Linked DNA regions of Homo sapiens. The gene in region 7 interacts genetically with the main gene of each other region. Each region holds a gene or a part of one and is shown on either strand. Other genes may lie near its edges. The genes, in order: RICTOR, EED, MAN2A1, SREBF1, EP300, SEC24C and EZH2.

The links.
Region 1: changes in EZH2 (region 7) and RICTOR together harm fitness less than expected from each alone (positive genetic interaction), as found in Homo sapiens cells (one large-scale study listed by BioGRID).
Region 2: changes in EZH2 (region 7) and EED together harm fitness less than expected from each alone (positive genetic interaction), as found in Homo sapiens cells (one large-scale study listed by BioGRID).
Region 3: changes in EZH2 (region 7) and MAN2A1 together harm fitness more than expected from each alone (negative genetic interaction), as found in Homo sapiens cells (one large-scale study listed by BioGRID).
Region 4: changes in EZH2 (region 7) and SREBF1 together harm fitness more than expected from each alone (negative genetic interaction), as found in Homo sapiens cells (one large-scale study listed by BioGRID).
Region 5: changes in EZH2 (region 7) and EP300 together harm fitness less than expected from each alone (positive genetic interaction), as found in Homo sapiens cells (one large-scale study listed by BioGRID).
Region 6: changes in EZH2 (region 7) and SEC24C together harm fitness less than expected from each alone (positive genetic interaction), as found in Homo sapiens cells (one large-scale study listed by BioGRID).

Annotation. Positions count from the first base shown.
Region 1 is NC_000005.10:38,945,400-38,948,899, forward strand, and holds part of RICTOR (rapamycin-insensitive companion of mTOR), read right to left. Parts: intron 2,043-3,500; coding exon 1,865-2,042; intron 1,154-1,864; coding exon 1,069-1,153; intron 326-1,068; coding exon 92-325; exon of another isoform or gene 1-91. UniProt on the Homo sapiens protein: Component of the mechanistic target of rapamycin complex 2 (mTORC2), which transduces signals from growth factors to pathways involved in proliferation, cytoskeletal organization, lipogenesis and anabolic output.
Region 2 is NC_000011.10:86,265,253-86,268,752, forward strand, and holds part of EED (polycomb protein EED), read left to right. Parts: intron 1-830; coding exon 831-964; intron 965-3,203; coding exon 3,204-3,309; intron 3,310-3,500. UniProt on the Homo sapiens protein: Polycomb group (PcG) protein. Component of the PRC2/EED-EZH2 complex, which methylates 'Lys-9' and 'Lys-27' of histone H3, leading to transcriptional repression of the affected target gene.
Region 3 is NC_000005.10:109,692,927-109,696,426, forward strand, and holds part of MAN2A1 (alpha-mannosidase 2), read left to right. Parts: intron 1-3,500. UniProt on the Homo sapiens protein: Catalyzes the first committed step in the biosynthesis of complex N-glycans. It controls conversion of high mannose to complex N-glycans; the final hydrolytic step in the N-glycan maturation pathway.
Region 4 is NC_000017.11:17,816,487-17,819,986, reverse strand, and holds part of SREBF1 (sterol regulatory element-binding protein 1), read left to right. Parts: intron 1-261; coding exon 262-449; intron 450-532; coding exon 533-667; intron 668-752; coding exon 753-974; intron 975-1,612; coding exon 1,613-1,727; intron 1,728-2,070; coding exon 2,071-2,291; intron 2,292-2,395; coding exon of another isoform or gene 2,396-2,439; intron 2,440-2,529; coding exon 2,530-2,731; intron 2,732-2,850; coding exon 2,851-3,029; intron 3,030-3,268; coding exon 3,269-3,500.
Region 5 is NC_000022.11:41,155,092-41,158,591, reverse strand, and holds part of EP300 (histone acetyltransferase p300), read right to left. Parts: coding exon 3,479-3,500; intron 1,424-3,478; coding exon 1,184-1,423; intron 181-1,183; coding exon 92-180; intron 1-91. UniProt on the Homo sapiens protein: Functions as a histone acetyltransferase and regulates transcription via chromatin remodeling. Acetylates all four core histones in nucleosomes. Histone acetylation gives an epigenetic tag for transcriptional activation.
Region 6 is NC_000010.11:73,757,872-73,761,371, reverse strand, and holds part of SEC24C (protein transport protein Sec24C), read right to left. Parts: intron 1,751-3,500; coding exon 1,578-1,750; intron 1,355-1,577; coding exon 986-1,354; intron 660-985; coding exon 523-659; intron 1-522. UniProt on the Homo sapiens protein: Component of the coat protein complex II (COPII) which promotes the formation of transport vesicles from the endoplasmic reticulum (ER).
Region 7 is NC_000007.14:148,806,883-148,809,087, forward strand, and holds the end of EZH2 (histone-lysine N-methyltransferase EZH2), read right to left. Parts: coding exon 2,189-2,205; intron 825-2,188; coding exon 764-824; 3' UTR 501-763; downstream 1-500. UniProt on the Homo sapiens protein: Polycomb group (PcG) protein. Catalytic subunit of the PRC2/EED-EZH2 complex, which methylates 'Lys-9' (H3K9me) and 'Lys-27' (H3K27me) of histone H3, leading to transcriptional repression of the affected target gene.

The DNA.
Region 1 (3,500 bases), on a different chromosome or scaffold from region 7:
GAATTAGAATACCAAAAAGAAATTTGGAAAAGTAAACCAGAGAACTTTAGTCATCACTAGGTTTTTCTGAAGGTGGGACGTGATCACTTACCTGAATGACTACATATTGCACTCAGTTGGTTGCTGGGCTGGAAACCCAGAATTTCAATACAGACACAATAAAGGCAGTTATCATCTGTATGTTCCTGTAGTCCAGTGTCTTCTGTACTTTCTAAAAACAGAGAGGCATCTGAATGGATTGAATTCATTATTTCCGTAAGACTCATCTGCTGTCGTAGCAAGTGAAAAGAATTTTTTACAAGACCTCCAGTTCCAGATGGAAGACCTGTGCATAAGTAAATATAAAACATAATCCAATAAAGATAATACTTTTCAAGGTACCTTAAATTATGTGAAATTTTAAAGAAAGCTTAAGCACATTTTATGACTCAAAATCTAACTGGAAAGAAAAAAAGAATAATTTGCTTTAAGTTATAAAAATAAGGAAAGCCAGCAGATGTTTATTATTTTAATATATAGTGTTTTAAATACAAAATGGAAAATTGAGATTATATAATACATCATTTCAATTATCGTCAATATTTGCCTAAAGATATGTAATAATTCTAAGTATAAAGAGGCATTTGTTTAAAAAGTCATTAAGAATATAAAGCTATAAAACCTGTGGCTTATATTTACATATTAAAATATAACAGTTCAAAACAAAGACCGTGTATTTTATAAGTACATTTCTTTCTCCTTACTCTAAACAAACAGCTATTTCCTGGATCTATGAGGATTAGTGTTATACATTGTTCATGTGCTACTTTTAAAAAACAGAAACAACTAATTTGGTTTCTATTTCCTTGAAAGGTTGAGTACTTCACTGAAAACACTGTTAAGTCCCTCACACATACACAAAAATGTGGTTTAATTTTAAGCTGACTTTAACAATTGTTTTGGTATAATTTTAAAGTTGATCCAAAAGTGAGTCTTCCTAAATTTTTAGTGTTATCCTACTAGAAAGAACTAAGAGTTTTCTTTTTAATATAAAGAGGCATCTCACAAGTACAATGCACAATGCATTACCTCCTGCATCATGGGCAAATGCTCTTGCACCTCGATCATCATGTGGTGGTATGTTTTTTGTCTGAAAATAGGGAATATCCTTTACCTAAAAAAAGATATAAACCATGGTAAGTCCTGCTATAAAAATAAGCCCACTTTATGAAAATTAGCAAAATTAAACAAAATAAAATTAAAATAGAATTACCATAGCATATGAACCTATAATCAAGTTTACTGAAGGTTCAACTACCAAAACTTAACAAAATAACCCAAAAAGTCCTTATTATATTATTAGTGACTAAATGGACATTAATTATTTTAGCGTTTATCTAAAATGTCTTTCAACTTCTAAGAAAATGTGTTCTTTAGTACTATATACCATCTAGAGATCTGTGGGTATCTCCTGGGATTAGGGTCACCTTATATTACTGGGTACCACATATGGCTGGCTACCTTTTATGGGATAAATAGGAATGAGGATTTAAAAATGAGGTATAAGTTAAATGTGACTAAAAAACAAGTTAGAAATTTCATAAATTTCTACAGAGAATATATGGATAAAGAAATCAAATGAGATACTGATTTAATATGGGAAGAGAGGGAAGGATAATGTTCTAAGGACTAAATAAAAGAGTACAGAGTAGTTGAAAAGGGCAAAATAATTTTAATCTTAAAGTTTCTTTAAACAAAACGGTCTTAAAAATCATGCTGCCCCAAACTGGTGCCCACCCTAAATTATGATTTCTAGTAAGCAGTTACAGCATATGAAAAAATAGGAAACCAACTCATAGGAAAACAATAAAATGTATGATAATACCTGGAATATATCATTTATATCCACCGGGAGAGCAAGACCAATGTAATCATCTGAACCCCCATATGTGGCACTGGACACCATGGACCGCACTGAGGAAGATCGTTGCAGGGTATTTTGATTAATAGGACTCAATAAATCTTCTTTATCTAATGATGCATAACTTAAGGCTTTCATGAACCTATAAAACCATAAAGAAACCACTTGCATTAGTTTCTTGATCTGTAATTTTAATCATATGAAGAAATAACATATATTCCTACCTTCATAAAAGACAAGTAGCTAGTCATGTATTAAGCAGTGTCATCTTGTTTACTGGCAACACATAAACACTTTAAAATATTAGCTGTTATAGACCGCTATGTAAAAGGTCACCAGTAATGTTGACTGTTACCAAAAACAACTGTTATGGTCTCTCAGGTAAAGGTGAAAAGGTGGGCAATTAGAATAACTTTCAACATCTAGAAGTAAAAAAAGAAACTGACCTCAGTAGTCAGAGCATGGTCCAAGGACTATCTTCATAATCACTTGAGACTACTAGATTTGGCATTTATGTAACTAAGGATATGTGTATCAACTCTATTTAATATTATATTTATAAAAAATGAGATCAATTACATATCATTATTTGTGTGATAATTACCTTAATGCCTTCATTATCAACATAAGATTTATGTAGCACACAAGACAGACACAAGAGCAAAATGGTCATTTATGACGAGATATCCTTGTAAAAAGCACTGATATTTCCACAATGTACTGATATTTCCACAATGTACTCCTTACTACTAGAGATTCCATAACAAATATGATACACTGATATTTCCATAAGATACATGTTTCTCATACAGATTCTTACTTATGCAACAGACATGCTAAAATATTTACTTGGTATCTGCTGTATATATACAAGGCACTATGCAAGGTTCCACATTTATATACATTTATATGAAGATATTTTTGTTTGGAAAACCAAGTCTTTAAAATGTACGAATGCAGCCTAATATTAAATCAAATAATTATTTTGTAAAACACACAAAAGAAATGCTTTCTAAATAGTAGCTATTAACATAGCAAAAACCATGCTCCTAATTTCCACCCAAAAAACACTCTTTCAAACTGTAATCTGTTACATTTCTTTGGTTCCCATAAAACTCTTCAAGGATTACTGGAGTGGGAGGAAAACAATTATTGGATTATTCCCCTTCCCAATTCCTATTTCAACCAGTATAGGTCCCTTTCTATCTATTCTACCTATTGGGTTTCCACAGAAATCTTTATGTGAAAAAATAATTTCTCTGCTTAAAAAACAACAATACAAAAGTTTACAACCACTGATCTAGTGCAATCTCCACCAGATGAGGTAACTGAGGCTTAGGAATGTTCAAAATTCATGAACTTTACTGCATAGATTTGTAACAGTGAGCTGTTGAGAACTTTCCCTGGCTTTGTCCTGGACAAGGTTGCCAAAGCTAGTGAGTTCCAGATAGATGAGACATTGCTGCATAATTTCTTAAATCCTGTAAGGGTACACAATTCATTGTCTGCTACCAAGAAACCCTCTATTAAATGTGTTAAGCATTATTGAAACAAAACTGCTTAATGTTATTAAGAATAATGTAAGGGCTAGATGGATTAC
Region 2 (3,500 bases), on a different chromosome or scaffold from region 7:
AATGCAAAGGCTGGATTAACATATAGTATCTAGGTTAGTAAGGAAAATATACTCCTTCAATAGAACTCTCTACTGTTATTTCTTAGAATGAGAGCAGGAGACAGTATGTAGCTCTTCTGTGTAATACAGGAGTTCACTGGAGGTGGATAGGTGTGTGAGATTTTCATTACTCATTATGTGCCTTTTGCTAAATTAAATAGCATCTCTGGGCCTTAGTGTCTGCCTATGAAATGAGGTTGTTACAATAGATGATCTGTTACATGCCTGTTAAAAATTAGTAAACAGCAAATGAAAAAAGTTAAAATCTGTTTTTTATTAGACTTTTAAAAATTCACTTAAAAGTGAACTCTAAAACTAACTTCAAAATATTTTGACTTAGAATTATAAAGTAAGATGTCAGCTCTTTAAGGATTCATGTATTTTCACATGCACATGTCAGTTTCATTGGTTGGTTGAGGTTGGATAGGAAAAGTAATATCACTATTCAGCTCTTTGTGTCAGAATAATTATTTTAACTTAGTATTCAATTTACCTTCAAAATAAGCAAAATAAATATTTTAGTGTAATTGAATAGATAAAACTAAGTTTAAGTAATTTTTTCTTGGTTTATACATTGTAAATGCTCTTATATTCCGATGTTGACAAACTAATTAAAGCTGTAAATCTTGAAAGTAGTAAACTCTGATTTATGGCCTATTTAGATGAAACCCAAAATGTAGTTTGTATTGTGATTTGAAATACAGTTTTCACTATGTTGCACATTAGGCAAAAATTGGATAAATATAATTTGGAGCTGTAATTTATATAAAACTTTTTGGTTTTGCATACAGGATTATGATCTTTTGGGTGAAAAAATAATGTCCTGTGGTATGGATCATTCTCTTAAACTTTGGAGGATCAATTCAAAGAGAATGATGAATGCAATTAAGGAATCTTATGATTATAATCCAAATAAAACTAACAGGTAACAGTTGTGGTATTTGAAACAATTTGCTATGTTGTGCTATTGAATATAAGTTTTATTTTTTCCCAAAATTGCTATATAAGCCCCAACAATGAGTTTAGAAGACCTTCTTTTAACTTTAAGGGACAATTTACATACTGTAAAATTCACCCCTTTAAGAAGTCCTTTATTTGCAGTGTTTGTGGCTTAGTTTTCAAAATCCCCTTTAAATTGTGTTGTCATCTTAACTTAGTAGCACATTTTACTTATTTGTATTTTGGTATGCATATGCTTGGCCTTTTAAGTTATAAATGTAAAAGTTTTAAATCACTTAAGCTTATTATGGACTAGGGAGAGTAAAGGACACTTTAGAATAATGTTAACTTTTTTTAAATGATGCTAATTCTAATTCAAGATGGTAAACCACAGTTTTAAACAATGGAGTTCTTAGCTCTAATTCATGATAATGTTTTTCCCTAAATGATGCTCACTTGATTAAATGGAGAGAATTCAAATGCAGGAGCCTCACTTCATGGTACTATAGGTTGGGGAATTTTGCAGTTTTCTTAGTATATTTTTGAAATGTCTCAATTCTTAATGCAGTAACTGTCTTTAGAATCTTATCAGGCTGTCATTAACACTTTCACTATAAACGTTGTATGTCTGCATGTTAACTTTGTTGGCACTTTTGTTTTAGCAAAGAGCTAGAATTCATTTTCTGGTTATCAAGCCAGATTGTTAATAGATTATTAAATTTGTAAGCATCAGTAAATATTTCAATGCACTAACATTCATCAGACCTAAGTGTCCTCTAAGAATTATTAAAAGTTTTACCTTTCTCCTTTAAAACACCAGGAGCTAGTAGGACAATGTTAAATTTATATTTTTAGATTATTTTCTAGATATCTGGAATAAATACAAACTATATTTCAGAGTTTTCAAAAAATAACAGTTGTACTCGTTTTTTCTTTGAGAGAGGTTTGGCCATACAATTATAGTATGTATTTAGCTAAAAAGCAATTAATATAATTATAGCAGAGTTAAGAATTTATATCAGATCACGAATAACATTTTAATGTTTCAACAAAATATCCCAGAATTTGAATTGGAAGGATTGTTTTGAGTTGCTCCAATCCAAAGTGCTTTTTTACATATCTGAGGGAAAAGGTAAAGAGAGGACATATGAATTGCCTAAGACAACTAATTCATGGCATATTATACTTATACAGCTATTTCTGATTTAAAACTGAGTATATTAGGAATGTTAAGTGTACTGTTAAATAACTCCAGAATTAATAGCAGCTTGTTTTGTTTCTTCTCACAAATATCTCTAATGAAAACAGTGTTGCCATTTAGTTTCCTAAATACAGAAATTATTTGGAAAAGTCCTAGGAAATTTTATTTTGTTCTATTTGTTTTTTTGAGACGGAGTTTTGCTCTTGTTTCCCAGGCTGGAGTGCAGTGGTGCAATCTTGGCTCACTGCAACCTCTGCCTCGCAGGTTCAAGCGATTCTCCTGCCTCAGCCTCCCAAGTAGCTGGATTACAGGCGGCCGCCACCATGCCTGGCTAATTTTTTTTTTTTTTTTTTTTGTATTTTTAGTAGAGATGGGGTTTCACCATGTTGGCTAGGGTGGTCTCGAACTCCTGACCTCAGATGATCCACCTGCCTCGGCCTCCCAAAGTGCTGGGAGCCACCGCACCCACCCCCACTTAAGAAATTTTAAATTCCTGTAAGGCATCATTTTCAGAAATTATTGCTCAAGGCAGGACTGTAGATGTATCTTTAGCAGACTTTGGAATGATGTTTAGTTGTTCCTGGAAAGATGACTATCTTTTGAAATAGTGTAGATATATTGACTTTCATAGATTATTAATGCTTAATTTTAAGGACTGAGTAGGTAGCTTAGTATATTTTCAGTGAGAAACTGATCAGGCCTTTATTATTGGTTAGGGTACCCAGAATTGAGGTGATTAATTTTGGGTTATATATAGTAAAACGCAGGAAACTACAATGTTTATAAACAAAGTATCTATCATAGGACAAAGATAAAATTGGATAATAATGGAGAAAAATAAACAAAAGTGGAATGAGACTTTAGCTTTCAATAAATAGATAAGGTGGTTGGTTATGTAGGAACACAGAGGAATTAATAGTCTTACATTTTGTTTTTCCAAGTTTTATAAATCCAAAAATGAAAAAGAGTATGATTCTACTATAATTTTTTCTTTTAACTTTTTACATTTCCATTCTTCCTTCAGGCCATTTATTTCTCAGAAAATCCATTTTCCTGATTTTTCTACCAGAGACATACATAGGAATTATGTTGATTGTGTGCGATGGTTAGGCGATTTGATACTTTCTAAGGTATGGTAACTGCAGTTAAGCTGTACTTCCATCGTGTGTGTGTGTGTGTGTGTGTGTGTGTGTGTATGTGTGTGCGCATGTTGGAACTTGGCAGGGAGCACTTTATGTAGTTTATTAAATTGAATGGCAGCTGGGAAGTTGCCTTTTTTAAAGTCTCATATTTTGATATATTTAGAAACTTGTTTTAAGAA
Region 3 (3,500 bases), on a different chromosome or scaffold from region 7:
CGTGCTCCTATGAGAATCTAATGCTGCTGCTGATCTGACAGGAGGTGGAGCTCAGGCGGTAATGCTTGCTGACCTGCTATGCCACTCACCTCCTGCTGTGTGGCCTGGTTCCTAACAGGTCCATGGCCCTGGGGTTGGTTGCCCCCTGTATAGAGCATGTTGCTCTCTGGTACCTTAGCTTATGACTAAAGGAACTTTTATTTTGAAGCCATAATGAATATGGTCCTTTTTCTGAAACATTTACTGCTAGAGATTTATACCCTTCCCAGAATGTCTTTGAGCTCATTTCAGAGCTAAACATTATAATGAAAACCATTGTGTAGTCCAGCATCCAGAACTTGAGTTGATTCTTTTTTTTTTCACTGCTTCTAACTTATTCTTAATAATACCAAACATAGCAAAAGGAGGTTGCAATACATTTGTTTGGCAAGTTTGGGTATTGAATTCTTGAGTTTTAGTAGAGCCAAGCAGGTCGGTCACTATGTGTCATTTTTTGGTATCTAGTAGAACGGTTTATTTAGATAGGTATTGGGTTCCTCTAAATTGCCCATTTAGTTGGTTTCAGTTGATACGGAACCTTCACTAGGCTTTAGGTCTATCTTGTAAACAAGATATTTTTAAAGACCATCCTAGATTGAGAGCAATCTATTTGTTGTTTTTTTGGAGAGCGGGGGTTTGTTCTTTTTCTCTTCTCTCACAACTCTGGTGTTTTCCACCATTTGGCTGGACTCTGGGGCAAGAGTGGGCTGGCCGAGGGTGCTCCAGTTTCTCTCACCCCGGAACAGCTGCCTGCCTCTAAGATATTCTTTGGAAGTCTATCCTGAAGCACTCCGAAGCCTTGCTTCTGCTTCTGGGAGGAATTCCTTGGAGGACTAGAGGCAACAGGGGGCCTAATCTGTTGAAACTTGTGTGTATATTTCAGGGTTAATAAATCTCAGCTAAGAAAATTAATAAAAATTCCACTGTGAATGAGAGGTTGGTCAGAGACTAATGTCTTGAAAATGCTTTATGATAACTTGGAAGAATTTGAGCAGATGGAAAGGAGAAACTTTGTTAAGGTCTCCCTGAAATTAGTCATCACTTCTTACAAGCAGATTTCACAAGGTGCTTACTATCTATGGTGTGTATAATAGGGTTGTCTTATTAATTAGTCTGATGTTTGGATCTGGAGAAGTAAATTAATGAGTCAGGTTTTGTATAACAAATGATCACTTTTTAAGTAATTAGTGTAGCATATGACCGTAGAGATTAATATTAACTCTTAAAATATGGAAATTGAGACTCCGATGGAAAATGTGAAAGTGAAGTTAAAACTTTATCTTTTTGCCTATGTAACATTTATCAAGTGAGAAAGTGAGAATGCCTTTAAATAAGCATTTGATTGAAAGCCATTAGAAGGTGAGAACTTGTATACCTTTTTTTTTTTTTCTTTGGGATAGGGTTTTGCTCTGTCATCCAGGCTGGAGTGCAGTGATGGAATCACAGCTTACTGCAGTGGCCTTGAATTCTTGGGCCCAAGCCATTCTCCCACCTCAGCCTTCTGAGTAGCTGGGACTACAGGTGTGTATGCCACTGTGCCCAGCCAGTTTTAAAATTTTTATTTTGTGGAGACGGGGTCTTACTATGTTGACCAACTGGTTTCAAATTCTTGGCCTTAAGCTATTCTCCTGCCTCAGCCTTCCAAAGTGCTGGGATTATAGGTGTGATTCACTGCTCCCAGTTGCCTTTTGTGTTTTTTTTTTTTAACTTACTGTAATACACATACAGAAATGTGCTTACATACTTTACATCAGTAGTACTTAAGAGTCCAGCATAGTAGATGTTATTAATGAAAGTTGACTCATGGCAATACATATAACTAGGACTTTGATTCCCCAGTTTTTTTCTTGCTTTCATAAATCTGTAAATCTTACTTAAGAATGACATATAAGGAAAATATGATCTCCTTCCCCTTCCTTGAGTGCAGTCTATTTATAAACAATAGCACTTGGTGCTGGGGTTTGTTCACGTTTGTATGAGGGAGATTGTCTTATTTTCTGGGATATAATGCGGAGATCTGTGCTTTTTGGGAAGTGATGGAACGTTGATAGTGCATCCAGCATTTAGGAATGCAAGAACAAACATTAGAGCCTTTTGAGGATGGTGTCCTCTAACTCCTCTTCAGTCCAACAGCCCTGTGGGTCTCTTCCTGATCAGCATTTTTCACTAAGACCCAAACTTATTTCCTGTAAACCAACTGGGCCAGATACTCATGACTGTCTGTGGTCTGAAGATAGTAGTTTATGTTTTGTTTTTTGTTTTTTTTAAATTGAATTGGGTGTGTTGTTCCCAGATGAACACTGTTATCAGGGCCTAAACAAATATTTTTGTCAGGGAGATGTCACAATTGTATTATTGGAAGGGGATTTTCTCTCTTAGCTTTTAATTTGCATTAAGAGGTGTCTGGGCTGTGGGCAAAATAGTGGCTAAAATGACCACTTTTATTTGTTTTTGAGTCAGCTATTGCTTTTTGTGATAACTGAAAACTTTAGTCTTTTTTGAAGGACTGAAGTGTTGAGAGTTTCCTGGAATGAGTGGTTCACTAGCTGTTGCTGATCACCTGGTTTATTCTTAGCTTTTTTTGCATTCAGGAGTCTTAGTTTTCCCTTGTTCTCCAACTTCTGTAATCTTTAAGAAAATGAAAGGATATTTAGCAGCTCTGATGACCTGTATTTGCTGGATTGTAAAGGCCTTATTGCATTTTTTATCCCTTCTGTCTTGGTAAAAGTTCCTGATAGCAGCAGCTTTTATAAAAGTTTGAGCAGAACTAAGGCAAGGAGGAAGAACTCTAAAATAGTGATTTTTGCTTCTCAGTTGTTATTAGTAGGTTAATCAGGAGAGGAAGTAGGACATTTTAACTAAAATGGGTTTCTGTTTCAGTTATCAAGCCAAGCTGCTATTTTTAAGTTTGAAACCATTTTTAAATTCAGACAGGTTTGAGGATTAATTGTACTGAAATGGAGCTCACATCTAGTGCTTTAGTGAGTATAGCTAAATGTGCCTATAATAGGGAGGAAGTAAATCATTTGGTTTGATGAACTCTGTCACTTGAGGTCATATCATAGCTTTTCTGAAAGAGTGCCCTGTTTAAGGTAATTATATTTTATGCAGACAGGTGGATAGTAGGTATCTAGTATATATCTTTTTTTTTTTTGAGACGGAGTCTCACTATGTTGGCAGACTGGAGTGCAGTGGTGCAATCTCAGCTCACTGCAATCTCCACCTCCCGGGTTCAAGCGATTCTCCTGCCTCAGCCTCCCGAGTAGCTGGGATTACAGGCACAAGCCACCATGCCCAGCTAATTTTTGTATTTTTAGTAGAGACGGGGTTTCACCATGTTGGCCAGGATGGTCTCGATCTCCTGATCTCGTGATCTGCCCGCCTTGACCTCCCAACATGTTGGGATTACAGGCGTGAGCCTCTGCGCCTGGTTGGTATCTCTTAAATATCTTAATGTTAAA
Region 4 (3,500 bases), on a different chromosome or scaffold from region 7:
AAACTGGGGCTCCACTCGGCTGCTTGAGATGCCCTGTTACTAGCAGTCCTGGTGTGCTTGTTGCCGGGGTAGGCGCAACCTCGCACTGGAGGCCTGGCTTGAAGCCAGTGCATTTGCATCAGAGCCCAGGCAGGGACTGTCCATAGGAAGCCACATGGGGCAATGACTCATCCAAGGCCAGTCGGTGATAGAGACCTGAAGAGCAGGTTGAAAGTGGGAGAGGGAGGTCTGTGTCTGCAGCCCCATGCTTTATTTCTGCAGGAAGCCCTCCCGGGAACACCCAGCAGCCGCTGCCTGGCCTGCCACTGGCTTCCCCGCCAGGGGTCCCGCCCGTCTCCTTGCACACCCAGGTCCAGAGTGTGGTCCCCCAGCAGCTACTGACAGTCACAGCTGCCCCCACGGCAGCCCCTGTAACGACCACTGTGACCTCGCAGATCCAGCAGGTCCCGGTGAGGGGGTCTGGCCAGGGGTTGGGGAGGGGGCAGCCCCAGCCCAGACACACAGCTTACAGCCAAGCCTCTCCCACCCTCAGGTCCTGCTGCAGCCCCACTTCATCAAGGCAGACTCGCTGCTTCTGACAGCCATGAAGACAGACGGAGCCACTGTGAAGGCGGCAGGTCTCAGTCCCCTGGTCTCTGGCACCACTGTGCAGACAGGGCCTTTGCCGGTGGGTGACGTGGGCAGGGCATAAGGGAGTGGGGTCTACACACACACACACATGCCCACCTGGTAACATGTGCCTGGCCCTGCAGACCCTGGTGAGTGGCGGAACCATCTTGGCAACAGTCCCACTGGTCGTAGATGCGGAGAAGCTGCCTATCAACCGGCTCGCAGCTGGCAGCAAGGCCCCGGCCTCTGCCCAGAGCCGTGGAGAGAAGCGCACAGCCCACAACGCCATTGAGAAGCGCTACCGCTCCTCCATCAATGACAAAATCATTGAGCTCAAGGATCTGGTGGTGGGCACTGAGGCAAAGGTGTGGAGAGGCCTGCAGGGGCACAGACCGGGGTGTCCCTAGGAAGGAACAGATCAGGGGCAACTGGAAGGAAGAGAGGGAGTGAGACTGAGCCTGGACAAGCAGGGAATTGGAATTCAGCCTCCCCAGGCCTGGCCAGCCTCGTTTATTTAGTTAAACTGGTTTGCAGGCCTCTTCAATAAAGGTGGGGCTGTGCTAGGCATTGGGGATGCAGCAATGAACAAGACAGACAAAAATTGTCCCTCAAAGAAGAGCCGACCTTCTGGTGGGGGAGATGGACAGTAGGCAGGATGAATAAGTGCTCGAGACCACCACGTTTGGCTCGTTGCAGAGAAAGCAGGAAGAGGATGGTGAGGGTCCCCTGGTGGTAGCCAGGGAAGGCCTCCCTGAGATGGCGGCAGGCACAGCAGCAGCTAGCCAGACCCTGCTGTCTGCATCTTACATTCTAACCCTATGCCCGGCCTGGGAGGTGGGTGCTACTAGGCGAGGAACGGTTCAGGTAGAAGGAACAAGTGCAAAGGTCCTGAGGCAGTAATGTTGCAAAGCAGCTCCGCACCCCCTTGCTAGGGCTCTCCAACCCCACAACCCCCGACCTGACAGGCCACCTGTGCGCTCCCCCTCCCTCCCACACCGTGCAGCTGAATAAATCTGCTGTCTTGCGCAAGGCCATCGACTACATTCGCTTTCTGCAACACAGCAACCAGAAACTCAAGCAGGAGAACCTAAGTCTGCGCACTGCTGTCCACAAAAGCAGTGAGTCCTGGCTTTATTGAGCTCCAGTCTGGCCTCTTCTCTAGCCTTGCTCCACCTCCCGGCCCCACCCCATCCCTAGCCCCACCCCACCCTTGGTTCTGGCCCACCCTCTGCCCTGCCCACCTCACCCTTGGCTGTAGCCCTGCATTCAGCTCTAGTCCCTTGGTTACCTCTGGTCCTGAAAGAGACCTGGTGCCTCCCTTTGGCCCTAACCCAGCCCCATCAAAGCGTCCTGGGCTAGCTTTAGGAGCTACAGTAGTCCCTAGGCCTCCAAGGGCCTAGGCTCTGATTTGGGGTCACATATCCAGCCTTTACTCCTGGCTCTGTTCCTTTCGGCCCACAGAATCTCTGAAGGATCTGGTGTCGGCCTGTGGCAGTGGAGGGAACACAGACGTGCTCATGGAGGGCGTGAAGACTGAGGTGGAGGACACACTGACCCCACCCCCCTCGGATGCTGGCTCACCTTTCCAGAGCAGCCCCTTGTCCCTTGGCAGCAGGGGCAGTGGCAGCGGTGGCAGTGGCAGTGACTCGGAGCCTGACAGCCCAGTCTTTGAGGACAGCAAGGTTGGGCCCTGCCACGGTGCCCCCTTCCCCACTCCCAGCCATATCCTCTGAGCCTCATGACAGGGCCGGGAAGACCCTAACAGATCCTACCTCCCATTTCATAGACAGAATAACTGAGGCCTGGAGCCACGTGGGGTCCCACAGTAAGGTGGGCAGAATCCTGACCCCCCCCTTCCCAGCCCCATGCTCTCTGGGGTCCCTCCGATTCTGCCCTCACCACCCTGCCCAACCCCACCAGGCAAAGCCAGAGCAGCGGCCGTCTCTGCACAGCCGGGGCATGCTGGACCGCTCCCGCCTGGCCCTGTGCACGCTCGTCTTCCTCTGCCTGTCCTGCAACCCCTTGGCCTCCTTGCTGGGGGCCCGGGGGCTTCCCAGCCCCTCAGATACCACCAGCGTCTACCATAGCCCTGGGCGCAACGTGCTGGGCACCGAGAGCAGAGGTGGGACCGGCCAGCCTGGGCATCTTTGGGAGGGACACTCGGGGTGAGCCCCCAGGCTTGTGAACTTGGGGCTCTGGATTTCCTGGGAGCTGTGTCCCCAGCTTTCCCTCTGTCCATAGATGGCCCTGGCTGGGCCCAGTGGCTGCTGCCCCCAGTGGTCTGGCTGCTCAATGGGCTGTTGGTGCTCGTCTCCTTGGTGCTTCTCTTTGTCTACGGTGAGCCAGTCACACGGCCCCACTCAGGCCCCGCCGTGTACTTCTGGAGGCATCGCAAGCAGGCTGACCTGGACCTGGCCCGGGTAAGGGGCTGGCCCCGGCAGAGTGGGCAGGGCAGGGACCCCAGGCTGTGAAGGTGCTGGGTGTCAACCCTTGTTCCTGCTCCCTGTGCACACCATGAATCTGTCCCGTCCTCCCTGTGCCTAGCCACGCATCCGCAGACCCCCACCACCCCTCCAGAGCCTGCTGTGGACGGCTCTTCTGAGCTTTGGGGCAGCTGCTCTGACCTCACTTTTCTCACCTGGAAAACCCTCATCCACAGGGAGACTTTGCCCAGGCTGCCCAGCAGCTGTGGCTGGCCCTGCGGGCACTGGGCCGGCCCCTGCCCACCTCCCACCTGGACCTGGCTTGTAGCCTCCTCTGGAACCTCATCCGTCACCTGCTGCAGCGTCTCTGGGTGGGCCGCTGGCTGGCAGGCCGGGCAGGGGGCCTGCAGCAGGACTGTGCTCTGCGAGTGGATGCTAGCGCCAGCGCCCGAGACGCAGCCCTGGTCT
Region 5 (3,500 bases), on a different chromosome or scaffold from region 7:
TGAACCATGACTGTATGTGTGCTGGCCCATCCGCATGCACTCCCTGGACATGTGGACACATGGACCATGGTCCACACCTGGCCAAGCTTACCTGTTCTGGTAACTGTAATAAGTGGCATCACGAGGTATTGTGCACAACTGTTTGCCGTAGCAACACAGTGTCTGTGGAGAGAACTCCAACTGCAAAAGAAACCATTTGTTAAAAAGCACAGAGGCCTTAAGGACAAGCTAGAACAGTAAGAATGGCAAGTCAGAAACAGAAGTCAGTGGTGTCTTAGTTCTCATTTATGTTAATAATGATGGGCTAATTCAGTTCCTGAAAATCATTCTCAGTTTACTACCACATTATTTCAAAACGCTGAGGTAGGCTTAGCAGTCATATCCTTCCATCACTTTACCAAAGAACCTAACAGGAATAGCTGGGCAGGGTGGCACATGCCTGCAGTGCTCAGAAGCTGAGGTGGGAAGACTGCGTGAGCCCAAGAGTTCCAGACCAGCTTAGGCAACACAGCAAGACCATAGTCTTATTTTAAAAACAAAAAACCAATAATGTGAATTGGTATGTACAGGAAAGCCAGCACATGCTGAGGAATCTGCACCCACAGGTGAATATAAGAATGCCCCTACTCCAGATGAGTTAACAGTCTGTTGATTATTTAATTAGTCAACTTTTCCATACAATTGCCACTCTGAAAAAATGCCTTTAAAGAAAGCCCATTTCATATTAAGAGATATTACTACTGTGGCACACAGTAAGAGAAAGACTGTGTTGGCTGGGAGAGGTGGCTCATGACTGTAATTCCAGCACTTTGGGAGGCCGAGGCAGGAGGACTGCTTGAGCCCAGGAGTTCAAGACTAGCCTGAGCAACATCATGAGACCCTGTTTCTACAAAACAAATTTAAAAAATCAGCCAGGCATGGTGGCGTACGGCTGTAGTCCCAGCTGCTCAGGAGGCTGAGGTGGGAGAATTGCTTGAGCCCAGGAGGTTGAAGCTGCAGTGAGCTATGACCTCACCACTGCACTCCAGCCTGGGAGAATAAGACCCTGTCAAAAAGGAAAAAAAAAAAAAAAAAAAAAAGCCATGTCAAAGCCAGAAGCAGGATATTCTCTTATCCCAGTCACCACTATATTATTCTAGGTATCCCAGAAAAGTTAAAGTCAAATCTGAAACACATTTCTTACCTTTCTGCCACAACAGTATCCAAGGCTTTGCATCACTGGGTCAATTTCTTGTTCAAAGACCTCAGAGAGCTTGGAGCAGTATTTGTATACCCGTGATGTTTTCCGGTTATATAACCAGGCATTATTGAACATAAGCCAAATATCATCGACATACTGCCAGGGCTCCTGATACTGTCCAGTGTCTAACTTCCTCTTAATGGTAGAAAGATCCATGGGGCTCTTCACAATATCAAAGTAATCCTAGAAAGACAAGTGACATCAAACATTACTCAAGTCTCACTATTTTTACGGGAGATGGAGTATCATCCATTATCATTGTTAATTTTCCAGGCAGTGTTTTAGTTTCTGGCCTGTCTATATTCCCCAAGAGGTGACTGATGTCCATCACTTCTTTAAATATTAGTTTACAGAGATATTAAACTACTCAAAGGGCAGAGAAACAGAACTACTATGGACTTTCTAGACATCAGGCTGATATTCTACTGAAGCAACTTCAGGTTCTTTATGAAAGTACATGTGAGATCAGTAAAGTCAAAGACATTTAAAATTTTAGTACTAGAAGGGGTGTACAATGAGGAAACTAAGCCCACAGAACTTAAAATGTTCCATCTGAAATCACAGCAAGATACAAGAGAGGAAAAGTCCTAAAAGGCTTTTGCCCCTGGAAGCACTTGACCTTTGAGATGGAGTCTCTGTCAACATGTTGCCCAGGCTGGAGTGCAGTGGTGCAATCTTGGCTCAGTGCAACCTCTGCCTCCCAGGGTCGTTCAAACTATTCACCTGCCTCAGCCTCCCAAGTAGCCAGGATTACAGGCGTGCACCACCACGCCCAGTTACTTTTTATATTTTTAGTAGAGATGGGGTTTCACCATGTTGGTGAGGCTGGTCTCCAACTCCTGAACTCAAGTGATCTGCCTGCCTTGGCCTCCAAAAGTGTTGGGATTACAGGCGTTAGCCACCGTGCCCGGCCAAGTAACAGTTTAAAACCACCAAATGAAATCTGCCAGCAGCCTAGTATATGGAGGCAACTTTAAAAACAAAGCTAACCACGGTCCTTTTTTCTGCTATGACCTATTGCTCTTGAAACAACGAAAGTGGCCGGGTGCGGTGGCTCACGCCTGTAATCTGGGCATTCTGGGAGGCCGAGGTGGGTGGATCATCTGAGGTTGGGAGTTTGAGACCAGCCTGACCAACATACAGAAACCCCATCTCTACTAAAAATACAAAATTAGCCGGGCATGGTGGCACATGCCTGTAATCCCAGCTACTCGGGAGGCTGAGAGGTAGGAGAACTGCTTGAACCCGGGAGGGGGAGGTTGAGGTGAACTGAGATTGCGCCATTGCACTCTAGCCTGGGCAACAAGAGTGAAACTCCATCTCAAAAAAACAAAAAACAAATAACAACAACAAAAAAGTAAACAAACTATATAACCCAGGAATTCCACTCCTAGGTAAATACCAAGGAGAAATAAAAACTTAAATCCACACAATGTTCACTACAGTCCTATCTTAATAGTCAAAACGTGTAAACAACCTAAATGTCTATCAACTCATCAACAGGTAAAGAAAAATAATGGAATATTATTGGGCTATAAATAGGTATGTGCTACTGATTCATGCTACAACATGGATGAACCTTGAAAACATTATGCTAAGGAACGTCCTGGCACAAAGAATCACATACTGTATGTTCCAATTTAATGAAACATGTAGAACAGACAAATCCAGAGACAGAATGCAGTCTGGTGATGTCTAGGATTGGGGTGCTATGGGAGAAAATAGTGAGTGACTGTTAATGGTAAAGGATTTTTTTCAGATGATGAAAATGAAAGTGTCATGCACAACTCTGTGAATATACTAAAACTCCCTGAATTAGGCCAGGCCCAGTGGCTCACACCTGTAATTCCAGCACTCTGGGAGGCTGAGATGGGCCTATTGCTTGAGTCCAGGCGTTCAAGACCAGCCTGGGCAACATGGCGAAACCCCGTCTCTACTAAAAAATACAAAAAACTAGCCAGGTGAGGTGGCACATGAATGTAGTTATCCCAGCTACTCAGGATGCTGAGGTGGGAGAATCACCTGAGCCCGGGAGGTGGAGACAGTAGTGAGCCACGATCGTGCCACTGCACTCCAGCCTAGGCAACCAGAATAAGACCCTGTCTCAGGGGGAAAAAAAAAAAATCACTGAATTACAAATTTGAAATGAGTGGCTATACTGTTTGGAATGTGAATTATCTCTCAATAAAGCTGTTATCAAATTAAAAAATAAAATCAAAAGTACCACCAAATACTTACAGGGATTCCTAAAAGCTGAGGG
Region 6 (3,500 bases), on a different chromosome or scaffold from region 7:
AACTGTCGTTCACTCTTCCCCATCCACACAGCAGAAGCCTACCAAACAAAAGTACTGGGGACTTCCTCCTAAAACTGTCCAAGTAAGAGCAGAGAAACCAGTGAGGCTTTCCTTCTCTTAACATCTAACATCAGAGAATTCCCACCTGCTCTACCCATTAGGAAGAATGCCATCCTTCTAGATCTAAGGGGACAAGACCCAGTCACTGCTCCACAGAAGGACAAAGGCTACTATACTATGTATGTACAGTAGTGACAGAGTGCAGCCCTCAGACATCTACTGGTGCTGCTGCTCACTCTTGGTTTCCCTTCCTTCTCTGCCCAGCTATAGAGTAAAACAGCCCCCCAAAAGACTCCTAGAACCTCAAGTTCCAGTTCAGAATCAAATTATATGTAAGTTCTCCAAGAAGATGAACAAAAAGGGAAAATTATCAGAAAATGCTAGGCAAACATTTCATCTAGATTGACCTGCCTATCTGGCAGACACAAACCCTTCCTCAGGACCATGAAAGTTTCTACTTACAGGGCTTGGGATGGCATCAGGGTCCAGGCGCTTAGGAGGCAGTGGCTGAGGAGGCCCAGGCTGACTGCCAAAGGTGGGTGCTGCTGGGTAGGGGCCTCCATAATTAGACTGAGGGCCCCGGGCTGGTCCGAAGGAACCTGAGACAAGGACACAAGGTTGATGAACTCAAAATCCCATCCCTATCTCTTCTTAAGGCCTCAGGAAAATGACTAGACTCCTAAAAACATAGAATTATGAGGCACACTAATGCCTGGCAAAGACATTCAGAAAAATACCATGTTATCAGAACGACAAGAAAAAATAATGTCTTACAAACCCCATATCCTAGGAATAATACCCTGAAGCTACCCATCTAATTCACCACTTAGCAAGTAATACTAAAAACAAACAAATAAAAAACATCAAAAACCACCTGAGTAGCTGAAGCCTCTAGCTTCTAAGACAGACCTTGGGAAAGACTCACCATTTTGTTGGGGCTGATAGCCTGGCTGCTGCGGGGAGTGCATAGGTGGCAGTGGTCCCAGGGGCCCAGTCATCTGGGTGCCAGGGGGCAGAGCTTGAGGAGGTGAAGACACATGGTTGGGCTGGCTCACTGAGGGCCCTCCAAAACTCTGTCCAGGCAGGAGTGGACCAGTCATCGAAGGCAGCCGAGGACCCCCTGAAGCTGGGGGTGTGAAGCTGGAGGCCTGTGATGGGGCAGATCGCTGGGGAGTCTGGATCCCAGGATGACCTTGGGCCTGGCTAAGGGGAGGAGCCTGGCCCTGAGGATAGGAGCCATACAGACCAGAGTTAGGGAAACTTCCTGAGGCTGAAGCCAGCGATGTTGGTGGGCCTGAGAAGTAGAATAAAGGTAGAGTCAAAAGCCCAGTCATTCTGCCTCCTTGTTCGGTATATCACTTCCCTTTCCACACAAGAGGGGCAAATATGACTGTCCCATCTTCTGAGGCTCAGAGGCACAGGAAATACAAGGGAAATAAAAGAGATTCAGGTATAACCCCAGAGTCTGATGCCTCTGAACAGGGGACAGTAACATTCCTGTGTTCACAGCCACTCACCAAAGCCCAGCCCTGAAGAAGGAGGGGCTGGGGCCACAGCACCGCTGATCTGCATTCCAGACAGCTGCGTAGCCACCTGTGCACTTGTCGGGGGAGGGCCATAGGGCTGAAGCACAGGTGGCTGGTTGCCCACAGGGGCCAATGGGGACCCAAATGGCTGAGACCCAGGCAGCCTGTGAAAAGAAAGCAAGCAGAGGTGACTAGTGGGGCCAGGACACCCTTTGAAGTCTACAGAAGTGTCACATCATACAGGAAGCTACATTGTTTTGTGACATCTTACTCTCACACCCTGAGTTCTTTTATGGCTTCATACTTTTGTATATTTGTGGGTAAATTATATTCCTGATTATTCATGGCAAATCTTGTTTTCCATTAAGCTCACTCCACAAACATAAACCAAGCACCTTCAGGTCAAGTACTATTTACTCTGCTAACTAAATTACTGCTTCCTCTGCTTCAATTCTTTGACAAACCTCTTCAGTTTTGTAATCTGAAGCCCTGAAAGCACTGAAAGGGAAGGCACGCATAAGCATGCATGAACCTTAATAAATATGAAATCAAACAAATGCAGATTGATTGTCCAGCTTTTTTTTTTTTTTGAGACAGGGTCTCACTCTGCCACCCAGGCTGAAGTGCAGTGGTGTGATCACAGCTCATTGCAGCCTCAACTTTCCAGGCTCAGCTGATCTTCCCACCTCAGCCTCTCAAGTAGCTGAAACGAAAGTCACACGCCACCATGCGTGGCTAGTTTTCGCATTTTTTATAGATACGGAGTCTCGCCATGTTGCCTAGGCTGGTCTCAAACTCCTGAGCTCAACGAATCTGCCCGCCTCAGTCTACCACAGTGTCTTTCCAATATACTTTCCATTCAGTGTCTCCCTCTCTGATTATTCCCATCAGCACAAAAACATACAAACATCTCACACACACACACACACACACAAAAACCAACTATAGTGGAAACATCCCAAATGTCTATCAGCAGAAGAATGGATAAACAAAATGTGGCATGTAGCTACACAATGAAAAACCACTTAACCACAAAAAGGAATGGAGTACTAATATACACTACAACATAGTTGAACTTTGAAAATATTATGCTAAATTAAAGAAGTCAGTTATAAAATATCACATAGTATATGATTCTATTCTAATGAAAAGTCCAGAATAGGGAAATCTTTAGAGACAGAAAGTAGATCAGGAGTTGCTTAAGGTTGGAAGAATAGGGGAATGGGGGAATAGCTAAACAGGGGTAGTTAAAGAATGCAGTATTTCTTCTTCAGATGATGAAAATGTTCTAAAACTGACTGTAGTGATATCTGTCAATATACTAAATTGTGACAGCACATATCTGTCAATATATTAAAAACCACTAAATATACAAAAACACTTTAAACAGACGAATTGCACAGTATATGAATTATATCTCAAAAAACTTTTTAAAAATCCAACCAAATTACCTCACAGCCCCCTCAAACTTTTGCTCCCCTTTTAGCTAAACATTACAAAAGAATAGGTCTATACTCTGTCTCTACTTTTTTTTTTCTTTTCTTTTCTTTTGAGACAGAGTCTCACTCTGTCGCCCAGGCTGGAGTGCAGTGGTGCGATCTTGGCCCATCACAACCTCCACCTCCTGGGTTCAAGCAATTCTCCTGCCTTAGCCTCCCGAGTAGCTGGGACTACAGGTGCCCACCATCATGCCTGGCTAATTTTTGTATTTTTAGTAGAGACGGGGTTTCACTATGTTGGCCGGGCTGGTCTCGGAACTCCTGACCTCGTGATTCGCCCGCCTCAACCTCCCAAAGTGCTGGGATTACAGGCGTGAGCCACCGTGCCCAGCCTTACGTTTTTTTTTTTTTTTTTTTTTTTTTTTTGAGACAGGGTCTCGCTCTGTCACCCAGGCTGGAGTACAATGGCACTCAC
Region 7 (2,205 bases):
CGTTTCCTTGACGCTTTCAGAGTTTGTGATTTTTACCTCTGAGAAGATATAAAACTACAGTTTGGTTATACCTATCAATCACCTTTTGTGATAAGGTAGGTAAGGAATCCCAACTTATATTGTGTTTGTTTCTAAAGAACTCTATCTAGACTAATGGAGTTTAGAACTAGGTACGTTCTTAAAAATAACCTAAAAGTCTACTCTGTCAGTTTATATATGGGGAACAGACTTGGAGGTTAAATCTCTTTCTCCAGGTTGCACAGCTGACTGGAACGTACCCACCCTGGTCTTGTCTATAAGATCAAGCCCTTTACTGGGTAAGCCCTCAGGATGCACAGCAGTGTTCTTCATATATGTCTTCCACATATTCACAGGCAGTATTAGTTAAATCAAGATTCATACAAAGACAACTAAAAAACCCAAGGAGTTAAATTTAAAAGTTTTTTGTTGAGCAGTCCTGAAAGCAGTTATTGACACGTTATGAGAGATGATTCAACAAGGACAAGTTCAAGTATTCTTTATTCAAAGTTGAAAAATGTACCATACTGCATTATTGCAAAAATTCACTGGTACAAAACACTTTGCAGCTGGTGAGAAGGCAATAAAAAGTTGATTTTTAAACTCATTACTATAAATTATTCTTACAGTACTTTGCAAATTCAGAATTTCAAACTGCATGTTCTTTTTCTAAATTGCCCACAGTACTCGAGGTTCCTGAAGCTAAGGCAGCTGTTTCAGAGGAGGGGGGAGGAGGTAGCAGATGTCAAGGGATTTCCATTTCTCTTTCGATGCCGACATACTTCAGGGCATCAGCCTGGCTGTATCTGAAACAACAGGAAGGAGATGTCCGCTGGATGGCCACCCATCCAACATGTGCTGAGACTTAACACAACAAAGCCTGCTGAAGATAGTGGGTGCATTAAAATGTCTTTAAAAAAAAAAAAAAAAAAAAAACCCATCCAATTACACAGCTGCCTGCATAACGGCACATTCATAGAAGGCAATGCATAGGTCTGTGTTGCTGGCCATCTAATTGAGACGCTGCCAAGTTCTGAAGTGAACAAACCTGTCTACAAGCATTCCCAGAGCCTGACCAGCCTCCCCTATGCCTCTGAAGCAAGTGGTCCCAGGAAGGCTGGTCCACATCAGGATGCTTAGGCCTGACGCTGGGAAGGCAAAATAGAACCATGGTCTGGAAAAAATGATGACCATAGCAAAGAGGGCCAAAGAGCAGCCCGCCAGTTGCTCCCCCAGGTGAAGCAAGAACTGGAGTGCAGCGGACACCCAGAGAGGAGCACAAGAAGCCCACCATGGGGGGTGAGGCCACCGGGTCATCCCAAGGAAGCTCCACCCCACACTCTTCATTCAGAGCCAGCCTGGAGTGAAGGCAGCGGCCTTTGCTAAAGTGGGCCCTTCACTCAGACCCTGTCTGCCTCACTGAGAGCTCGCTGCTGTGCAACAGCCATTAAAGGCCAGCCTGAATATGCAAGAACACAGTACTCAAAGACAGCTTCTGGATGGGATGTACACGGGGCTACAGGAGTTCATTAACTAGACAGTCATCTGACTGCACTTAAATCTGTATTCAATGGCTGACTTAAATGTATCCCACAGAGCTTGACAGTGTCAACTGGCAGCCTAATGCCTAACCACACAGATACCATTGGTGGCCCACGTGTCCCAGGCATCCCCACAGGGTGATCAGACAGCGATTTGCCAACAGCCCCTTTTAAAATGGTAATGATATGTGTAATAAGTATTATAGCAAACAATAAATTAAGTAGATCTAATCCATAAAGATATGCATAGTATATTGTCAAGTAAAACCATGTTGCAGAAAAATCTATAGGACAGTGTGATCGCACTTATCTGGAAAACGCTCCACGAGTGAGCATGCAGCATGCGGCATGATATGAGAAGGTCTAGGACTCACCCAGCTGTCAACAGCAGGGTGAGAAATGGGGCTTTCTGCATGGATTTTACTCTATTTTAAAAATAAGCATGCCTTGTATAATATATAAATGGATAATAAATACATAACAGGAAAGTGTAACCTAATTCCCCACTAATGCTCATGGCAAAGTGACCCATCAAAAGAAGCAAAGAACTAAAAACCCTCCTTTGTCCAGAGTTCACAATCCAGTAGAAAAAGCCCTTAGAGATCATGCTAGAAATGTACTTTACCAACCTGTAATCAAAAAACAG